Homo sapiens: one gene and its partner. The protein of the gene in region 2 purifies or fractionates together with the protein of the main gene of each other region. This does not show direct contact. Each region holds a gene or a part of one and is shown on either strand. Other genes may lie near its edges.

The links. The genes of interacting proteins can lie anywhere in the genome.
Region 1: the proteins of CHRM3 (region 2) and FASTKD1 purify together in Homo sapiens (affinity purification with mass spectrometry; 2 studies listed by BioGRID and IntAct, with this or other methods). This does not show direct contact.

The regions. Positions count from the first base shown.
Region 1 is NC_000002.12:169,542,866-169,549,901, forward strand, and holds part of FASTKD1 (FAST kinase domain-containing protein 1, mitochondrial), read right to left. Parts: intron 3,840-7,036; coding exon 3,353-3,839; intron 1,971-3,352; coding exon 1,856-1,970; intron 1-1,855. UniProt on the Homo sapiens protein: Involved in the down-regulation of mitochondrial MT-ND3 mRNA levels which leads to decreased respiratory complex I abundance and activity.
Region 2 is NC_000001.11:239,907,568-239,914,603, forward strand, and holds part of CHRM3 (muscarinic acetylcholine receptor M3), read left to right. Parts: coding exon 1-1,657; 3' UTR 1,658-7,036.

The sequences.
Region 1 (7,036 bases), on a different chromosome or scaffold from region 2:
AAAATCTAAATAGACAGAAACAATCAGACATTATGTGCCTCCAGATGTGATCTAAATATAAGGTATACAGCACTACATACAAGTTATTTTTGCTGCAAATGTTTAATCTGAACCTAACCAAGCATCTATACCTAATTTCTAGTTTACTACAAATGCAGGAGATGGAGAAGCAAGTTACAGGAAAACAATCAGACAAATCCAGAATGTGGCACAATTTATAAGAAATGGCCAATCATTTTATAAAAATAAATATCAAGCAAAAAAGATGGAGGAAAAGACATAACTACTCAATGCTGGTTGTTTAAAAAAAAGTTATAGCCAGGCACGGTGGCTCACATCTGTAATCCCAGCACTTTGGGAGGCTGAGGTGGGTGGATCACCTAAAGTCGGGAGTTCGAGACCAGCCTGACCAACATGGAGAAACCCCGTCTCTACTAAAAATACAAAATTAGCTGGGCGTAGTGGCGCATGCCTGTAATCCCAGCTACTCGGGAGACTGAGGCAGGAGAATCGCTTGAACCTGGGAGGCGGAGGTTGCAGTGAGCCGAGATTGTGCCATTACACTCCAGCCTGGGCAACAAGAGCAAAACTCTGTCTCAAAAAAAAAAGTTATAAAAGATAATTTGGTGACTCGGGAAAATTTGATTACGGACTAGGTAGTAGATGGTACTTGTTCATTTTCTTTGGTACTGGTAATGATACCAGTATTGTAGTTACATAGGAGAACGTCCTTATAACCTGAAGTACACAGAGCTGACAACTGGAAGGTTCATCATACGCATACGCGCTTGTGCACATACACAGAGCAAATGTGGCAAATGTTAATCAATACTCAATCACGACTGTGGGGCTACAGTTCATTATTATACAGTTTATTATTATACAGATGTTTGTTGTATTGTTCAATTTTTCTGTATATTTGAAAACCTGGATAACAAAAAGTTAAGAAAAAAAAAAACCAAGTCAATGCCAAGAAAAGAAAAAAAGGAAACAAAATTCTAAACTATAAGAGACTGAAGAGATAACAACCAAACACAATGAGTGAATACTGGGTGCAAAACAACTACTCTAAAATGTATTTTGGTAACACTTAGGGAGACTGAAACATGAACTGTGTATTAGATATTAGGGGACTATGATTAAGTTTCTTAGGTGTGGCAACAGTATTGTGGTGGTACAGAAGAATGTCATTATTCTTAGGAGATGTATGCTAAAGTAATTAGGGATGGAGGGTCACAATGACTACAACTTTGAAATGGCTCAGAAAAAAATAAGAGAGTCAGAGAAACAAACGGATAAGGCAAACACTGTAAAATGTTAACATTATTGAATCTACACGGTGAGTATATATGTGTTCTTTGTTTAATTCTTTATACAAGTTTGACATTTTTCATAATTAAAATGGATACAAAGTTTTTATAGGGCCGGGCGCAGTGGCTCACACCTGTAATCCCAACACTTTGGGAAGCCTTGGCGGGTGGATCACCTGAGGTCAGGAGTTCCTGACCACCCTGGCCAACATGGTGAAACCCTGTCTGTACTAAAAATGCAAAAAATTAGCCGGGTGTGGTGGCACATGCTTATAGTCCAAGCTACTGGGGTGACTGAGGCAGGAGAATCACTTGAACCCAGGAGACAGAGGTTGCAATGAGCCAAGATCGCACCACTACACTCCAGCCTGGGCGACAGAGCAAGACTCTGTCTCAAAAACAAACAAACAAACAAAAAACCTTTTTTTAGGTAGATAATTCATGTCTATTATGGTTACCCTTTAAATGAGGGACATCTCCTAGCTCAGCAGCAACAAGTATCCTCTGACTTATTCACTCAATGTATTACCAAACAATATACCTACCTAAGTAAGAATTAAGATGTTGCACGCAAGTTCCCAAAAATTCATCCCTTTGAGGTGGATCATAGTTCAATACGCTGAATGGACGAATAATAGCAGGGATTGTAAAAGGATGGATCTGTATAAAAAGAACAAAAAATTTATAGTTTAAACTTTAGGAAAATAAGACAAAATTTTAACCTAATTATTTTTTAGGAGAAATCTTTTCCTATCATCGCTACAGTTAAATAATAAATGTATCACCCTGCTTATTAATTTTTCCATCCTGCTATAATTTATTTAACCCCACCAACATTATTAATAACCCCAAAAGTGTTAATGTAACAAAAAAGAAGTAAATCAGATAATTTACAAATTTATTTTGTTAGGTGTAAAATTCTGTTCTGGCTGGGAGTGGTGGCTCATGCCTGTCATCCCAACACTTTGGATGGCTGAGGTGGGAGGATTGCTTGAGGCCAGGAGTTCGAGATTAGTCAGGGCAACATAGTGAGACCCTGTCTTTATTTAAATTTAAAATAAGTAAATAAATTCTGTTTCAGAATTCATTAGTCACTAAATTGAATAGGAAACAGTATCAGCAATTTCCATGATAATCAGTACATTTTATAGAATAATCATAATTAAAGAAGTTTCTTAAATTATAATCACTAGCATTTATTTTTCTTTCATTTGCTTTTTTATTTCATTTTTCACTCATTCATCCAATACTTAATGACTTCCAGGCACTATACTAAGCAAGTTAAGACAAACTTTTTATTTTCATTTGTGAGAAACACTGTCTTTTAAATAAAGGCCTTGCCCTGATATATTTATGATAGTGATTTTGTAAGTGAGCTGCTTCTCACATAATCCATAAAGCGGCATTTTACAAGTCCCAGAAATAAATCTGCAAGAAGATGCAATGACAGTTTAAGAATATAGTTGCCAATGGATACCTTATAATTTTCTCAGTTTTCAAGCTTATCTCACACTTTTGAATATAATTGTTTTTAAATGGTAAAAATAATACCACACGATTACAGAAATAAGAAAAAGTAAAACCAAAAATCATTCATACTCCACTGTCCTAACATGAGTATCCTCAAAGAATTGATTACTAATCTTAATACTGTAATGAACCAAAGAATGATTGCTGATCTTTCCAAATCTACAATGCCGGAATGAGAAAGTGACTTTAAGGAGAGGAACAACAAATCGCTGAAATAGAAACCAGAGTTTTCTTTGTTTTTCTTAAGAGACAGGGTCTCACTCTGTCACACAGGCTGGAGTGCAGTGGTGCAATCATAGCTCACTGAGCCTTAATTCCTGGGCTCAACCAATCCTCCCACCTCAGCCTCCCAACCGCTGGAATTACAGGCTTGAGCTACCACATCTGACCCAGAATTTATTTAATTTTTAAACCTCAAATTCCAATCCAAGTTCTCAAAGTGCCTATGATAAAAATTATGCTTGCAGAAGTTGACAACTCTATAAAATTAATGTCTACCATTTAAATTTCACCTTTTCAATCTGCTGAACAGCCACTGAGGCTATCCTATCTAGTAGCAAAGTACTGAGGTAATCAGTACTAGAAATAAAAGATGCAATCTCCCCAACATTTATGTAATTAATATCATCCATGAAATGCTGTAAAGTAGCAATCATTTCTTCAAGAAGTGACTCAGGAAACGTGTTTCCTTTGAGAGATTTAAGTTCCTTCCGTAACAGATCCAAACTGTTGCTGTGTTGTAGTCTCTGACGACCATAGTGATCTAATTTTTGAAGTAGTTTCAGTTGTTTCGCAGTCATATTATCCAAATACATGTGATCATGCTGAATCCATCTTAAAACAGATGTGGCAAAACTACTCAGGTTATTTAGGTCACACTGTGGTAAAACGGCTTCAATTCGGGATATCCCCACTTCGTCCAAGTGAGGAGAAGGGAGCAGGGAAATAGCACGGACCAGAACAGACACCTCAGTTGGTATGAAACTATTTTTCAAATAACTGCAAAATGAAAAATGAAAAGAATACATCAGCAACAAACCCAAAATATATATGTATTAAAATATGAATACATATGAGTACAATTAATAGGTAAGATGATGATTCAAAAAAACCTCTTTCAAACTATGTTTCTCCTCTAATCTCAAACCACAACAATCATCAACCACAGAAGACTTCTGTGACCAAATGTGTGGGAGTTCTTCCAAGCAGCGGATACCAACTGGGTGTCCAATTCAGTTCTGACACAATCTACCTGGGGACAGTGTCAGATCCCACAGGTTGGGAACTTGGTCTCTAAGACTAACCTCTCCCACAAAAACCCCAGACTCCACTTGCAAAAGTAGGCCTCCAGAACTTCTGAGCAACCGGCTTCAAGTTGGGTTTCCCATGACCTCCTCTTTGGGTTTGATTAATTTGCTGGAGTGATTCACAGAACTCAGGGAAGCAGTTGTTTATGTTTACAGGTTTATTATAAATGATATTATAAAGAATGCAGATGAAGGGACAGTAGGGTGAGGTATGCGGGAAGGGGTGCAGAGCTTCCATGCCCTCCCTGACCATGCCACCCTCCAGGAACCTCCACGTGTTCGGCTATCCGGAAGCAGTCCAAACCCAGTCTTCTTGGGTTTTTATGAGCTTCGTGACATCAACATTTCCTCACACAGGGTGTAGGGTGGGATCTCTCAGGGGAGCGTCTTAAGACCCACGATCAGAAAGGTGGAGGGAGATTAGAGTCCTGCTTTGGGGCAGGAGAGAGATTCTCTTTCCAGAGGCCTAACATACCCAACATTGTTAACAAAAGGCTATAGCAAGAGCTATAGAAGTTATGAACTAGTAACTAGGACAAAAGCCAATATATATAACATCACAGGTGGGCATAATACAAGTTAATTTAAGAAGAGTTAGATAGGCCAGGCACGGTGGCTCATGTCTGTAATCCCAGCACTTTGGGAGGCCAAGGACAGGGGTTCGAGACCAGTCTGGCCAACATGGTGAAACGCTGTCTCTACTAAAAACACAAAAAAATTAGCTTAGCCAGGCATGGTGATGTGCACCTGTAATCCCAGCTACTCAGGAGGTTGAGGCAGGGGAATCTCTTGAACCAGGGAGGTGGAGGTTGCAGTGAGCCAAGATCGTGCCACTGCACTCCAGCCTGGGCGACAGAGGAAGACTCCATCTCAAAAAAAAAAAAAAAAAAAAAAAAAAAAAAAAGAGTTTGATAAATTCAAAGATGACAGGTCCATAAAGGATTATTCAGGAAAGCCTAAGACTTCCTGATGCCCTCCGTCTCAAAAAAAAAAAAACAAAACAAAAACAAAAAGAAAAGAAAAGAAAAAAAAATCTTTAAGTATAGAAATAGTGGAAGGAATAAAGGAATAAAACAGGAAGACCTGTTCTGAAGCACAGGCCAAAATTTTTTATTCAAAAATAAAACCACAGTCCCAGGGAAACAAAAGGTCCATGTCAGAACAATGTTTCCAGTGCTGTCGCTGAAGAAAGAACTTGGGTTCAATTTCTGATATCACCTGTCAGGCCCTGGCATGCAGTGATCACGTAATAAAATTGGTTCCTTTTTTGTTTCCGATACACAGTCCAACATTTAAAACAAATGAATAAACAAACAACAACAAAAGAAACAGGACATAGTTGACCTCATTCTCTACTTCATTCCGAAATCCCCATGGCAAGAGTCCCACCACCAGGACAATAATTGTTAAAAAAAAAAAAAAAAATTGAAAAACTGGGGCCGGGCATGGTGGCTCACACCTTTAATTCCAGCATTTTGAGAGGCCAAGGCGGGGGATAGCTTGAGCTCAGAAGTTCGAGACTAGCCTGGCCAACATAATGAAACCCCATCTCTACTGAAAATACAAAAAATTAGCCGGGCGTGGTGGCACATGCCTGTAATCCTAGCTACTGGGGAGGCTAAGGCATGAGAATCGCTTGAACCCGGGAGGCGGAGGTTGCAGTGAGCCGAGATCACGCCACTGCACTCCAGCCTGGGTGACAGAGCAAGACTCCGCCTCAAAAAAAAAAAAAAAAAAAAAAAAACTTTAGGTATAGAAGTAGTGGAAGGAATAATACAATCTAAATTAAAACAAAATTGAGGCTGGGCGCGGTAGCTCACTCCTGTAATCCCAGCACTTTGGGAGGCCAAGGCGGGCAGATCACGAGGTCAGGAGATCGAGACCATTCTGGCTAACATGGTGAAACACCGTCTCTACTAAAAATACAAAAAAGAGTTAGCCGGGCATGGTGGTGGGTGCCTGTAGTCCCAGCTACTCAGGAGGCTGAGACAGGAGAATGGCGTGAACCCGGGAGGCGGAGCTTGCAGTGAGCCGAGATGGCACCACTGCACTCCAGCCTGGGCGACAGAGCGAGACTCCATCTCAAAAAATTAAATAAATAGCTGGGCGTGGTGGCTCACGCCTGTAATCCCATCCCTTTGGGAGGCCGAGGTGGGCGGATTACCTGAGGTCGGGAGTTCGAGACCAGCCTAACCAACATGGAAAAACCCCGTCTCTACTAAAAATACAAAAAAGTTAGCCAGGTGGGGTGGCGCATGTAATGCGCTGTAATCCCAGCTACTCGGGCGGCTGAGGCAGGAGAATCGGTTGAACCTGGGAGGCGGAGGTTGCGGTGAGCCGAGATTGTGCCACTGCACTCCAGCCTGGGCAACAAGAGCGAAACTCCATCTCAAAAAAAAATTAAAAATAAAAATAAATAAATAAATACATTGAGTTACTTTTAAAATATTTTTTAAATTAATTTTTTTCTGGAGACAGGGTCTCACTCTGTTGCCCAGGCTAGAGGGCAGTGGCGTAATATAGCTCATTGCAGCCTTGACCTCCTGGGCTCAAGTACTCCTCCTGCCTCAGCCTCTCTACACACTGGGGATATAGGTACATGCCACCACGCCCAGCTAATTTTTTGTTTTTTGTTGTGGAGACAGGGTCTTGCTTTATTGCCCAGGCTGGTCTTGAACTCCTGGGCTCAAACAATCCTCCCAGCTCAGTCTCCCAAAGTCCTGGGATTACAAGCATGAGCCACTATGCCTGGCCATTTAAAATATTTAAATTAGCATACTAAAATAATCGTAATATTAATACTCAGTGTTAGCAAGGGTGTACTGATACAGGCATTCTCATTCACTATTAGTAAACTTAAAAAGTTGGTGTAACTTCCTGGAAAGTAAT
Region 2 (7,036 bases):
CTACAATGTTTCTCGAGCAGCTGGCAATTTCTCCTCTCCAGACGGTACCACCGATGACCCTCTGGGAGGTCATACCGTCTGGCAAGTGGTCTTCATCGCTTTCTTAACGGGCATCCTGGCCTTGGTGACCATCATCGGCAACATCCTGGTAATTGTGTCATTTAAGGTCAACAAGCAGCTGAAGACGGTCAACAACTACTTCCTCTTAAGCCTGGCCTGTGCCGATCTGATTATCGGGGTCATTTCAATGAATCTGTTTACGACCTACATCATCATGAATCGATGGGCCTTAGGGAACTTGGCCTGTGACCTCTGGCTTGCCATTGACTACGTAGCCAGCAATGCCTCTGTTATGAATCTTCTGGTCATCAGCTTTGACAGATACTTTTCCATCACGAGGCCGCTCACGTACCGAGCCAAACGAACAACAAAGAGAGCCGGTGTGATGATCGGTCTGGCTTGGGTCATCTCCTTTGTCCTTTGGGCTCCTGCCATCTTGTTCTGGCAATACTTTGTTGGAAAGAGAACTGTGCCTCCGGGAGAGTGCTTCATTCAGTTCCTCAGTGAGCCCACCATTACTTTTGGCACAGCCATCGCTGCTTTTTATATGCCTGTCACCATTATGACTATTTTATACTGGAGGATCTATAAGGAAACTGAAAAGCGTACCAAAGAGCTTGCTGGCCTGCAAGCCTCTGGGACAGAGGCAGAGACAGAAAACTTTGTCCACCCCACGGGCAGTTCTCGAAGCTGCAGCAGTTACGAACTTCAACAGCAAAGCATGAAACGCTCCAACAGGAGGAAGTATGGCCGCTGCCACTTCTGGTTCACAACCAAGAGCTGGAAACCCAGCTCCGAGCAGATGGACCAAGACCACAGCAGCAGTGACAGTTGGAACAACAATGATGCTGCTGCCTCCCTGGAGAACTCCGCCTCCTCCGACGAGGAGGACATTGGCTCCGAGACGAGAGCCATCTACTCCATCGTGCTCAAGCTTCCGGGTCACAGCACCATCCTCAACTCCACCAAGTTACCCTCATCGGACAACCTGCAGGTGCCTGAGGAGGAGCTGGGGATGGTGGACTTGGAGAGGAAAGCCGACAAGCTGCAGGCCCAGAAGAGCGTGGACGATGGAGGCAGTTTTCCAAAAAGCTTCTCCAAGCTTCCCATCCAGCTAGAGTCAGCCGTGGACACAGCTAAGACTTCTGACGTCAACTCCTCAGTGGGTAAGAGCACGGCCACTCTACCTCTGTCCTTCAAGGAAGCCACTCTGGCCAAGAGGTTTGCTCTGAAGACCAGAAGTCAGATCACTAAGCGGAAAAGGATGTCCCTGGTCAAGGAGAAGAAAGCGGCCCAGACCCTCAGTGCGATCTTGCTTGCCTTCATCATCACTTGGACCCCATACAACATCATGGTTCTGGTGAACACCTTTTGTGACAGCTGCATACCCAAAACCTTTTGGAATCTGGGCTACTGGCTGTGCTACATCAACAGCACCGTGAACCCCGTGTGCTATGCTCTGTGCAACAAAACATTCAGAACCACTTTCAAGATGCTGCTGCTGTGCCAGTGTGACAAAAAAAAGAGGCGCAAGCAGCAGTACCAGCAGAGACAGTCGGTCATTTTTCACAAGCGCGCACCCGAGCAGGCCTTGTAGAATGAGGTTGTATCAATAGCAGTGACAAAACGCACACATCAACCCACAGACCTTAGGAGGAGGAAGGCGAGGGCGGGGTGACTTCTGGTGATGATAAAAATGGTTTTATCACCCAGATGTGAAAGAAGCTGCCTGTTTACTGATCCATTGAATAAACCCATTTTAATAGAAAAAGTCAATACCAATTCAGCAAAAAGAAAAAAAAAACATACTACTGAATATAAAGAAATTTATTCTGAAATAGACTTTACGTGTTTTTTTCTTAAAGAGGAGAAAAATATTGCTTGACGGCAATTATATACCCAAAGTGATTTGCCTGGGTCCTTTAATTCCCATTAGCTTTGGAATCTCAGATGAGCATAGCTGACCCAGTTCCCACATTCTTCCCAAGGATCCCAAAAGTGGGAATCCAGACCCCAAGTGGAACACTGCAGGCTTACGAATCTGTGGTTCCAAAATTATTTCATACGTTGCAAAGCTGAATCTTCTTGTCCCAATAGAGCTTCCTGTCTTTTCTTTGGTGTGTTGTTAAACTCTATTTGTGGACTTGATTCTTGATTCTTGCAAAGTACTGTTTTGTGCAGTTCAAGTTTCGTACAAATAAAAATACTTAAGTATATATATATGTGTGAGTTCTGCACGCACACACATAGTGTATATAATATCATGGGAAACACTGAACTGGCAAATTATTCCTGCAACATACGCTTTCAGTACTTTGGTAACTGAAGTTCTCTAGGATCCTAATGCAACATTAACGTGAAATAAGCCCAGTGTAATGTTTTTGAAACCAGGGCTGTTTTCCACAGAGAGCAGCCAGGCCTTCCCAGCAGGTCTGTGCAGAGCGGACAGGCTCGTGAGTCAGCTGAGCGCCGTGGCTTCGCCAGACTTGGTGTTAAGCAACCTCCTTTGTTGATGTCTCAACAGAGCTAAATCGGGGCCCCTCTGAGCTCAAAGAATGAACCACATCCACACGTTTGAATTTAATCATCTAAATCTGAATGTTTCAGAACAAAATTTCTGCTATCTAAACTGCTTGAAACTCAATAATAGTGTCACGTTTGAATGTCATACACAGCAATATATATATATGTGTATATATATATATATGGCAAAGCAAAAAAAAAAACATGGTAAGAGAGAATGAAGGAGAACATTGTGTTTGATTCTTGCTGAATGGCACCTTCTCAAAGAAAATAGGGCTTGCACCTTTGTTAATCAGCTGTGGCCAGTGCTTTCTGGTGTTCATTGTGTAACCTTCACCCAGGAATAGGTGAGGTTTTAGGAAGTTACATGTCCTCTGAAGAAAGAATTACACTCTGAAAAGTAATGCTTCAAATTGATTTCCTTACCTTTTGGGAAAAAAAAAAAATTGTTTTTTTGCATTCTCCCTTGAATTGACCAAAATGTTAACTGTTTCATTTGGGGAGGGGATGGGGTGCTGCCATCATTGTCGTTGTTGTTGCTGCTGTAGCTGTTGGGGTTTCTTTTCCTGTTGCCGGGGCTGTTTGGGGAGAGGGAGGGGAGGGAGGTGGGAGGGCCGCGGAGATATCTTCCCTTTGTACAGGGCATTCGTGTTGTGAACCCAGAGCTGGGTAGAAGCTGCTTTTGTATTCAGTGTGAGGTGGTGTTTACAGACGACTTTGACAACAGTAGAAGTGTACTCAGTGGTGTCTGTGTATCTGAACTATTTAATTTCGTGTTATGTTTATATGCAGAAATATTTATGGATACTACACCAAGTGTTTATTTAATGTTGATAAATATGACTCTTCAGTCGTCAGCCATGGTGTCCTTTCAAAGTGATTCTTTAAGGTCCACTTGAGCAATGAATAGAGTATATTGGAGCTTTCCTGTGGCTAAGAAGAAGAAACATGTCATCCTGTTGGCATCACCAAGCACCTAACTCTTTCTAGGTAATAAAAAGTCAACGGTCACTTCAACGTAAATGTTTAAAACCACTCTTTAGTTAAATCTGATGGGAACTGAACAAAGCTCCACCATTGTGTCTGAAATCATTTTACACAGGGAAAAAAAAAAACAATCAGCATAATTGTAAGAATGATTTTTTTGGGCCCACATTCAACCAAAGAACAAGAAAGAAACAGACGATTTTCTAATATGTACACAGCAAACTACAGAATGTCATATTATCCACCTGTGAAACATCTAGTAAGCAATTGCATCTATATTTTATTTCTCAAGTTGGCCTGGCACTAATAAATATGTGAAAGCTTATTCAAGTGTCCCAGTACTTCAGCACTTCCCATCCTTTTGGAAACTCCTATCTTGCCTCCCTCCCAAAAGGGCTGTTTCTTTTATTAAAAAAAAAAAAGAAATAGAATTAAATTTGAGAAAAGGAGAAACCCTGAAATTTAACAGAACTTTGAGAGTCACTTCCAATCTCCTTAAACATGATTATCTCCTTATCCTTGTCCTTTTGTGATGCTAATAATAGCAGAAAAGGAACAAATCCAAGACTCTAGGTCTCCCTTTTTTGTTTTACTGGTTTTATTATAGAATTGTTTTTAAGCCTCTTATGGATGAAAGCTGCATTTAAATACTATCTACTGATTTTATAGAAAGGTATGTCCATTTCTTGGGTCACTTTCAGAGAAAGAAAACAAGCAAAATAGGTTCTTTTGAATATGAATAATTTAAAAGCATAATTGAAGATGTAGTGAGTATTTATAATTGGACCTTAGTTACACGTGCATTTCTCAAAGGGCTTGTCATTACAGGAGATATTCAGCACTTACCTAAGATCAAAATGTCTTCATCCCAAATTGGGAATCGAATTATTTCATGCCATATGCATGAGGTTTGCAGACATTTCAAGATTAGCCACTTTGCTTGAAAGAAGAAAATGATCAAACCTAAAATAAACTACACATGGAGAATCTCTCTCTCTCTCTCTGCCTCTCTCTCTCTCTTTCTCCCTCTTCTTCCTTCTCTCTCTCTCACAAGCACACACACACACACTCAATCTCCATTCTCCAGGCATTGCCAGATGGTTAGGAGAAGTGAGCTCTCTCTGGTCCCCTAGATCCCTCGGCTCTGCTCTCCTTTGCCCATCAGCTCCCTGTGGCCTCTATGCTAGTCCTCCCTATTCTCCTAGTCACCCTTTGCCTCTTAAGCCCAGCCTTGACTCTCTACATATTTTTCATTTCTCTTTACCCTTTAGTGTACAATAGTTGTAGACTCTGACGGAATGAAAACAAACAAGAAGCCTAAGCGTTAGACCCTGCTGTGGCTAAAGATCTAGAAGGCATATCAGTTTTCTCTGTCAGGCTTCCTACGTTGCCCTCGTGCAGGGCTCATTGCTCTGCAGAGCGCTGGAAGCCCCTTCATGTATCGAGAGAGAAGCTGGAGCACAGAGCTCTGATGCACAGTTGGCTGTTTCAGCTCTGACTCAGGGAGGAAAGAAGGATGCCAAGGCTCTGTCACAGCGGAGAAGTCTAATACCAGAGTGGCACAGAGAAGGATTCCAGGGATCAGTCAGGGTGTCCTGTACCTATCTGAGTAGAGATGATTCAAGGATGGGGACATATTCCAGGAAATTGCACAATCTTCCCCTGGCAGCTTCAGAGGACGAGTGAAAATAGTGCAGTATAGTCAAAGAAGCAATGAATTTAGGATGAGGAACCTGAAGTTTCTGGACCAGTTTGGTCACTGCTTAGTTACATGTCCTTAGGAATGCTTGTCACTTAACCTAAACTTTCTGGGTTTTATCCTCATTGCTCAAACTAAGCAACAACACCGAAGCTTCTCTAATTTGCCTTCTGATGCCAAATCGGTCAAAACTGAGGTCAGCAGCTACCATGACGAAAGTAAAATGGTATATTGGGTGAATGTTTGAAAATTTCAGATTTTATATTCTGTAAAGTTATTTACTTACTCTATTTCAACACCACAAAATCTTGAAATTTGGAAGGTAACCAAGGAAGCTTTGAAATTTGTTGGCAAACCCGGAGTAGTATGGTTTCAAATACCACTCCAACCCAGCACCTGAGGTCGGGCAAACTCACAAAATAGAGTTTCTAGGTAGCAGGTGTTTGCTTTGGTTTTGCAATAGCATTTCTCATAACAGAACTGAAACTGTATAGATTACAACACTCCAAAGTTATTTTTTTTTAACCTAAAGAACCCTACTTCTAGCACCTCCTCTGAAAGAATATTTTGCTCCAATACCACGTGCAACAAACTTATTTAGACAGTATCAACTCTAGCCCTTAATAGGTTCAAGGACAAGTTTACTGCTTCCTTTCTACACGCTTAAGTTACACTCTCTTCTCCTGTTCTGATGACTCTAAATCTTCAGCCTCTCCCAGCATTAATGTGTGAGTCAACATTGCAGACCTGAGAAAGGTTTCTAGAATGGTAACCCAATGTTCTTTAGAACTGGAGAATTCCATTTTCCTTTTCTGGCTTTAGTGTTAATGTCTGGGAAGGGAGGCTCATGATAAGAAAATAAAAATGAGAAAAGAAGATCTAGTTCATAAAATGACTATACCCCACGTAAGTTTGTAACTGCACAGTGTTTTGTTGTACGGCTCAGAAATGAGCAAGTGTTAGTATTATTAGGCACACATCACGTTCACAGCTTCGCGCAGAGACGGATAGTGTATTTGGATATATGGAAGTCATCCAAATGCGTTGCTAGAATATCAGGCCTATGTTTGTTCTGGTAGAACCACAGAGACTCACACAAAGTTCTGACCCTACCACTCTGGTCTGGGCTGAGACCACCCCAAAAAATCATCTAGAGAATCAAAGGGGCTCACATCTCAGTTGCATTCTATTTAAAAGATAAAGGGGCCATACTCTCCACTGCAAAGAAGCATTAGTAAAACTTCCCGCACCCAAATTATAATCCGGCAACCCTAGCTTCAGCTAAAAAGATTATCCCCAGAATCTAAAAGCTTACTATTGTTCTTTCTTGGAGTCCAAAATGCTTAGCAGTTCTGCAGTTCACATACAAAACTCAAAACTCTTTTTATCCTGTATTCTGTGAGTTCCTTGATGATAGTAATTGGGTCTTATTCATCACTCTGTATCCTGTGGCTCACACAGAATCTGGCAAATTGCATATATTCAATAAATGTTGAATATCTAATAACCTCCTTATTAATATAACAAATATTATCAACATTCTGTGCACATCAATGTCCCATGCTGCTACTGTAGTCAGGAGTTATTTGGCTGGGAAGTGGAAAGTGTTCACAAACATGATGCTTATCTAATAAAATATCACTGAGCAATAAGGAGAAATATTTTAAATAGATTTGAAGTTGTGAACAAATAATTTAGAGTCCAAAGAGGAAAAAGAAAATTAACTCTGTTTTTTATCCCTAGAACTCAGAAACTTTACTGGATTGG